Regions from separate parts of the Homo sapiens genome. Here region 2 is linked to region 1. Evidence: fine-mapped expression QTL. Tissue or cell type: thyroid. Region 1 holds a variant in brackets; the other region holds the start of a gene. All regions are shown on one strand. Distances are between the middles of the regions.

The links. PIP is the estimated chance that this variant, and not a neighbour inherited with it, causes the effect.
Region 2: GATC starts here. The variant in region 1 is fine-mapped to the expression of GATC in thyroid (GTEx, PIP above 0.99).

Annotation. Positions count from the first base shown.
Region 1 is chr12:120,472,302-120,476,567 of GRCh38, reverse strand. It overlaps a transcript of DYNLL1 not described here. Among named protein-coding and RNA genes, the nearest start is that of SRSF9, 4.7 kb to the right of the region's middle. The variant C/T (reference allele first, on the strand shown) is at 2,585.
Region 2 is chr12:120,444,401-120,448,519 of GRCh38, reverse strand. GATC (glutamyl-tRNA amidotransferase subunit C) reads right to left here and starts at 2,076. Exons shown (of 4, transcript NM_176818.3): 1 at 1,959-2,076; 2 at 1,691-1,863. The coding sequence starts at 2,039. It overlaps TRIAP1 (TP53 regulated inhibitor of apoptosis 1), which reads left to right and starts at 2,136. Exons shown (of 2, transcript NM_016399.3): 1 at 2,136-2,294; 2 at 3,565-4,119. The coding sequence starts at 2,148. The coding sequence ends at 3,648. RefSeq lists enhancers at 1,261-2,106, 1,940-2,234, 1,832-2,381, 1,596-2,795, 2,107-2,954.

The DNA of each region.
Region 1 (4,266 bases):
GTCACAACAAGACAGACTGGCAGCCCATGAGAAGGATGGAATTACAAAAGAAACTGGTCCCCAGCTGCCTAGCAAGGAATGTCTGTCAATGTGACATTCACAGAAGCCCTGCACATGTGCTGGCTGAGGGGGAGAGCCAGCCTCAGGCAGACAGAAGGAAGTTCAGCCACTGGGCATGTGTTAGCATGGGGGATGTGTAGCCTAGAAGCTTCCTGGCTTTCAGTTATTATTATTTTTTTTTAACTTAAAAAAAAAAAACTCCAGATAATTCCCATACTTGTTTTTTACCTTTAAGGAATGTATTTGCCTTGGAGGTGCCATTACTGAATTATATTGACGCAGTTCATTAAAAATCTGCTTAGTATAAAACTGACTTGGGTCTAAAAAAATTAGGATTCTACTAAATAAATGCATCCTTTTTTGTTGCATTGAAAAACATTCTTAGTACTGTTATTAATCTTTTCACACCCCCCTACCCTTTGCTTGTGTTTCTGATTTACTCTGCTGTGAAGAAAGTTTTCAAGGTTTGTTACAGTGGAAAATGTTTTGGAAAAAGTTCTGGGTTGAGGGTAAGGAATTTAGAGCTTAGGAAATGAAATTTGGTGAACCTGATGAGCTCATTTGCCATTTTGTACCTCAGTTCCACTTTTCTGGAGCTAGAATAACTGTTCTTTATATACTAGTTAATAAAATCAACAGGTGTTTACTAAGCACTTACTATGTGCCAGTACCATAGGGCTGTAAAGGGAAGTGATTGGTCTCAGTGTTTCTTGGCCTTTTTTGGGGGAATGGGGGAGTACAGCTTATAGACCTTTGAGAATGATAAATTCCTACGCTGTCCTGTATGGTAGCCACTAGCCACATTTGGCTATTACAATTAAAGTTAATTATTGTTAAATATAATTTAAGAAGTTGGTTTCTCAGTTGCAGTAGCCACATTTTAAGTGCTCAATAGCTACATGTAACCAATGGCTACCACATAGAACTCAAATATAGAATGTTTTCATCATCCTAGAAAGTTCTGTGGGACAGTGCTACATGGAGATTCTCCCCAGAATAAAAACACTTTTCTGCCCACATACAATATTTTGCATACAACTGTTACAACTTTGCAGGATCAGGGTCAGGAGGTGGAGGTTGAGGGGGCAGGGAGGCAGGAGTTCACTGATCCCAGAAGCCCATTAATCCAAGAAAAGGAAGCCCTGATATAAAAAGCTGTTTGAAGACTCCATCACAGAATTTAACAAGTTAGTAAAAATAAAGCAACCGAGCTGCTACAAATACAGTATGTTCACTTGAAGTAACTTCATATAAAATCAAGCCCTTGTGTTCCCACCTGTTTGGGCATATTCAAAGAAAACACCAGTTCATTATCTAAAAGTTATTGAAAAATAATGTTAAAGATTTTTTGCAGTCTCTGAAAAAAACACCAGAGGGGAATTATATTCACAATATACTGCAAATCTTGAATTATCTTTCCCATTTTTCTCTTCTCATCCTCCCACACTTGACACTTGCTTTCCTAAAGCTCACCCCCAATTCCAAACTCTCTTCCAAACCTCCTAGTTCTGCTGCTGTTTCTCTTCTTCCTCCCCTGCATGGCTCAGTTCTTTATTATGTAGCTTTCCAGAATATGTTTTATTTTACTCCATCACACAAGTACAGTGGTAGAGAATGACAGAGAAAGCTCCCAGGGTGCTGTGACCAGGAACACGTTTCCCAGTGACTCATTCCATAGCTCTCCTGCCAGGCGGGACCAGTTCCTCATCTTCTCAGATGGTCTACTCCCCCATCACTTCCTCTCTGCCCACTGATACCTAGGGCCAAGGTCTGGGAGGAGCTCATGACTGAGCCTGACAGAGAGGAAAATATTTTGCTGGGATGCCAGAGGGGACTGATGTCACAGAGAAAAGGAGAAAACCAGATGGGCAGGTTTGCAGCATGTTTTATGCCTGGCGTTGTTGGTTTTTTGTTTGTTTTAAATTTTTATTTCAATAGGTTTTTGGGGAACAGGTGGTGTTTGGTTATATGGATAAGTTCTTTAAGTTATTTAGTGGTGATTTCTGAGATTTTCATGCACTCATCACCCGAGCTGTTGTTGGTTTTGGGATTTTTTTTTTTTTTTATGTTGTTTTTTTCAGTTGGGCACTGCCCTACACTCTGGTGGAGAATAAATGGCTTGCTGTGGGAACTGCATTAATTCTTAATAGTCTGCCAACATCAAAGGCTTCTTTTCAGTTTGGTGAAAAGAAGGACAAGCCCATTTCTGTAACAGGATCTCACTCTGTCGCCCAGGCTGGAGTGCAGCGGTGCAATATTGGCTCACTGCAACCTCTGCCTCCTGGGCTTAAGTGATTCTCCCCCCTCAGCCTCCCAAGTAGCTGGGACTATGGGTGTGTGCCACCATGCCCAGCTAATTTTTGTATTTTTTGTAGAGACGGGGTTTTAACATGTTGCCCAGGCTGGTGGTGCCTCAGCTCCTTCTCTCTTCTTCCCTGCTTGAACTCCTTGCCCCAGTCACACCAGTAGGGATTTTCCCTGGTCTGCTACTCTCTCTCCTATTTGGGTGATTTCTCATGGTGTC[C/T]TTTTTTATGTTTTGAGACAGAGTCTCACTCTGTTGCCCAGGCTGGAGTGCAGTGGTGCAATCATGGCTAACTACAGCTTCAACCTCCCAGGCTCAAGCAGTCCTCCCACCTCAGCCTCTTAAGTAGCTGGGACTGTCAGGTGCCGTGGCTAATGCCTGTAATCCCAGCACTTTGGGAGGCCGAGATGGGCGGATCACTTGAGCTCAAGAGTTCGAGATCAAGTAGCTGAGACCACAGGTGCACGTTACCATGCCTAGATAATTTTTTAATTTTTTTTTTTTTTTTTTTTTGAGACAGAGTCTCGGTGTTGACCAGGCTGGAGTTCAGTGGCGCAATCTCGGCTCACTGCAACCTCTGCCTCCCGGGTTCAAGCAATTCTCCTGCCTCAGCCTCCAAAGTAGCTGGGATTACAGGTGTGCGCCACCACCTCCGACTAATTTTTGTGTTTTTAGTAAAGATGAGGTTTTGCCATGTTGACCAGGCTGGTCTCGAACTCCTGACTTCAAGTGATCCACCCACCTTGACCTCCCCAAAGTGCTGGGATTACAGGCATGAGCCACTGGGCCTGGCAATTTTTAAGTTTTTTGTAGAGATAGGGGTCTCACTACATTGCCTAGCCTGGTCTCAAACTCCTGGACTCAAGCCATCCTCCTGCCTCAGCCTCCCAAAGTGCTGGGATTACTGCCACTGCACTCAGCAGTCATGCCCTCATTTTTGTCTGAAATGCCCTTCCCTCTTCCCCCTGGTTAACTCCTACTGGTTCTTCAAGACTCTAAACATCTCCTCCCAGAAGCCTTCCTTAGAATCTCTAAGACTGTGGTAGGTGACCCTCCGATGTAGTCTCAAGCAGCTTATCCTTATCACAACTGTACTCTACATGACCGAATAGCAACCTATATACACAACTCAAGGACAGAGCTGTATTATTGCATGCCCTGGGCCTCATACAGGACCTAAATCATAAATAATGTTGAATATCTAGATGAACAAAAAGTTTAAAAGGTGTCCCTGCCTAGAGTCTCTGGCCTTAGCAGAGAATGGAACCTATGAACCCTTTGAACATGAAGTCATAATTGTGGTCTCATTTGTGTTCTAACTGCAAAGGTCAGTACAGGAATAAAGGGGGTTTCATGGATGATCATAAATGCCTCCTAAGGATTTAGCTGTGCTCTATCTAATCCAAGAAGCCTGTACTAACCACATCCCTACATTTTCTGCTGGGTAACTGAACTCCTTTGGAGATTGTATGCTGCAGGACATTGCACAATTAAAGCTGAATTATTATTATTTGCAAGCAGTTTTCCACCTACAGTCCTATTGAGTCACTTAGCTGACTCTATTTCTCTCTCCCTAGGAGACTGCCCAATTGTCTCCAACAGCACTTTTTTTTCCTTTTTTGTCTTTCCAGGCAACAATCACATAGGAGTGGTAGGACTCAGAGAATGGTATTAATACACCTAAGCACACCACCCAAAATGAGAAGGCATCTGGACTTTCGGATGCCTATAGGATATGTAAGCTCCTATAAGGCTGCACACTTAGACTCGAGATCATATTTGGCCAGGGCTCTTTCCTGCTTGTCTAGAGAACAGCTAGATGCTTTACATAATCCAGAATACAACAGATAGTTATAATGGTTTTATTTTAGGAATCATTTATTATGTTTTATTCCAATTATAAA
Region 2 (4,119 bases), 28 kb after region 1:
CTGTCTCTACTAAAAATGCAAAAACTAGCTGAGTGTGGTGGCGGGTGCCTGTAATCCCAGCTACTCCGGAGGCTGAGGCACAAAAATCACTTGAACCTGGAGGGTGGAGGTTGCAGTGAGCCAAGATCATGCCACTGCACTCCAGCCTGGGTGATGGGGCAGGACTCCACCTCAAAAAAAAAAAAAAACTTTCTTGAGGAAGTGGGAGGCTGAGGCAGGAGGATTGCTTGAGACCAGGAGTTTGAGACCATATGGGGCAACATGGCAAGACCCCGTTTCTACAAAAATTTTAAGTATTAGCCAGGTGTGGTGGTGCACACCTATAGTCCCAGCTATTTGGGAGGCTGAGGCAGGAGGATCTCTTGAGTCTAGAAGTTTGCGACCAGCCTGGGCAACATAGTGAGACCCCGTCCCAAAGGAAAAAGAAAATTGCAAAGTAGAGAAGACATTTGAAAGAATCAAACACGGCCAGGTGCTGTGGCTCATGCCTGTAATCCCAGTACTTTAGGAGGCTGAGATGGGTGGATCACCTTTGCTCAGGAGTCCAGACAAGCCTGGGGAACATGGCAAAATCCCGTCTCTATCAAAAATACAAAAAATTAGCCAGGCCAAGTGGCACGCGCCTGTGGTCCTGTACTTGGGAGGCTGAGATGGGAGGCTCTCTTGAGTCTGGGAGGTGGACATTACAATGAGCTGAGATCATGCCACTGCACTCTAACCTGGGTGATAGAGTGAGACTCCATCTCAAAAACAAATAAAATAAAAATTCAAGGCAGGAATAAAACAGTAACTACATAATGAGCTCACATTTTAATAAAAGAGATATAACAAATGAACAAAAGTCCATTAAAATGTTAGGGAAAAAACCCAATAGGATGAGTTACTAACTAGAAGGGGAGAAGGGATTTGGAGTGGTTAGGAGAGCCCTTTCTGAGAAGATAAGCTGAGACCTGTGCCAAGAGGGAGGCAGCCATGCAAATACTGAGAGGAAGGAAAAAAACGAAGGGCCAGTGCAGAGATCTAGAGAGGAAAAGAACTTGTCTTGCTGGAGAAGCAGTCAAGGTAGCCAAGGAGAGTACTGAGAAGAGTACGTTGGAGTGAGTAGGTAGGGACTCTATGGAGTAGGGCCTTAAAGGCGATGATTAGGCCAGGCGCGGTGGCTCACACCTGTAATCCCAGCACTTTGGGAGGCCGAGGCGGGTGGATCACGGTCAGGAGTTCAAGACCAACCTGGCCAAGATGGTGAAACCACGTCTCTACTAAAAATACAAAAAAAATAAGCCGGGCCTGGTGGCAGTCGCCTGTAATCCCAGCTACTCGGGAGGCTGAGGCAGAGAATTGCTTGAACACGGGAGGCGGAGGTTGCAGTGAGCCGAGATCGAGCCACTGCACTCCAGCCTAGGCAACACAGCGAGACTCCGTCTCAAAAAAAAAAAAACAAAACAAACAAACAAAAAAAAAAACAAAGGCAGTGATTAGCAGTTCGGGTTTTGTTTCCACTTACACTAGCGAGAGCATCAGTAATGAACAAGGGGAAGAGTGAAGCCACTGACTCGCGAGGTGACTGTGGGCAAGTTCCTGAATCTTGCTAACACTCTTTAACCCCCTGGAAAACTGTTCGCTAATCGTCACATTAAACGGCTGCGAACGGGCCACGGTCAAGGCTTCGGGGCTGCAGCCGCGAGTTTACCTGTCCTCCAGGACCGATTCCATGGGCTCCACCCCGTCTGTGTCCACGGCGCGTAGCCGGTCGGCGAAGGCGATAGCTTTCTCCAGTCGCGCCACTGCCTCGCGGCTGCCGAAGTCCACAAGCGCTAGACGCTCCAGGTGCTCGATCACCGCAGCCGTGATCCGGCCACTGCCCTGGAGGAGGGATGAGGCGGGGAGTGTGGGTCACCGGCGCTCCGAAGTGCCTCCCGGCTTGCTCCGCCACCCGCCTAGATGGCCCTGGCCTTTACCTGAGGATCCGCCTTGGAGGTGAAGCCCTGGCGCCCGCCCAGAGGGGCCCGAAGGCCCAGCCACACCAACCGCGACCACATTTCTTCCTTCCTTGGCCCCCGCAGTGCGCCCGCGCGTAACGCCGAGCGACGCGCCTGAGAGTGATGACATCAGAGTGCGCCGTCGTCGCCGCCGCCACCACTGTCGCCATGAACAGTGTGGGGGAGGCATGCACGGACATGAAGCGCGAGTACGACCAGTGCTTCAATCGCTGGTTCGCCGAGAAATTTCTCAAGGGGGACAGCTCCGGGGACCCGTGCACCGACCTCTTCAAGCGCTACCAGCAGTGTGTTCAGGTGAGCCCTCCCGCCTCTGTTCCCAGGCCCTGCATTCTCGGCGCTGTGTCCCACCACACTCATCGTATTTTACGGGGATTGGGACTGGACTGGAAGGGTGGAGAAAAGTCGCAGTGAGGCCAGTGGCAGGAGCTCGCTCCCCTACCATCACCACCGAGGCCACTTGGGTGTCTCTCCGAATGACAAATATTGGGGCAGTGCTTTTCAAGAAGCACAGTCACATCCTTTGGTTCATTTGGTGTTCACCCTAAACTCGCAAGGTGGGCATAGTTACTCATATTTTATACATAAAAAACTAACACCCAGAAATAGGAAGTGATTAATCCGAGTTCACTAGCATCAGGTTTCCTTGGTTCTTTCGCAGGTGGTGCACTTTTCCACTATTACTGCTGGGGTCTGGGCGGGATTATACTTCAGAATTCAGACTGGAGGGTCACATTTTTTTGTTGTTATAAACCCTTCGTTAGCCTGTTTCTCTCTCTTGACCAGTCCCCGCAACTGCAGCCAGGAAATGTTTATTCTGGCCCAATGGATGTGGAACTGCTTTGAATTGTTAAGAACAGCACCGGGCAAAGCACTTCCAATAAGTTAACCCAACACATCCTCACAGCAATTCCCCGAGGTAGTTGCTGTCTTCATCCCATTTACAGTTAGTCACATAGCCAGTAAGTCCTGGAACCCAGATTTGAACCTAAGTCTTTCACTAACACAAAGTGATGATTATTTTTCAAATTTCACTTAATTTTAACGGTTCCCTCACAACTCCTTTTCCAGTCTCCCTCAGGTCTTACACTTGATTTATTCATTATGGTACTTCTGGTTTTTATTTATTTTTGAGGCAGAGTCTCACTCTGTCTCCCAGCCTGGAGTGCAATGGCACAATCTCAGCTCACTGCAACCTCCGCCTCCCAGGTTCAAGCTATTCTCATGCCTCAGCCACCCGAGTAGCTGGGCTTACAGGCATGCGCCACCATGCCCAGCTAATTTTTGTATTTTTAGTATAAACAGGGTCTCGCCATGTTGGCCAGGTTGGTCTCTAACTTCTGGCCTCAAGTGATCCACCTGCCTTGGTCTCCCAAAATGCTGCGATTATAGGCGTGAGCCACCACACCTGACCGGTACTTGTTTTTTAAAAAGTATGTGGTTTGAATCATGGTTATAAGTCTTTATAATCAGCTTGATTTTACTTTTGTACTGTCATATTTTATTTACAAAGCTTGCAACTTAAGCTTCATGTAGGTCTTTATAATGTGTTTTCTCCTCCTACCAGAAAGCAATAAAGGAGAAAGAGATTCCTATTGAAGGACTGGAGTTCATGGGCCATGGCAAAGAAAAGCCTGAAAATTCTTCTTGACCTTGACAGTCACCTTGAAGGATTTCGCAAGTCCAGAAATTGAGGACTCTGGATTTTTGTCAACTAACTCTGTGAACATAGCCATCAGATTTGATGAGGAACTTAGGAGAGAGGAGTTTTATTTCCTCCTTCGATGTTTTCCTCTCAGTTGTAAAAGATGAACTCTTTGAGATGATTTCTCACCTGCTGTGGTATCTTGCAGGAACTGTGTGCTAAAATTGAACAATTTTTTTGAGATTATGGTTGCAATACTTGGCGTGGAATCAGCTTTACATAAATATACCTTGTATGCAAACGATGATAAACTAGTCAGGATGAGCAGAGCTGCCTGACCTCTTGATTTCTGCTGCAAAAGACATATACACTGTACTGGGGTCACTATTTATGAAAGCAATTGGTTAGGACCTCTTTTTTTCCTCTCAGGGAACTAATGCTCTGAAAAGGGATCTGGGCACAACAGTTTCAGTGAGT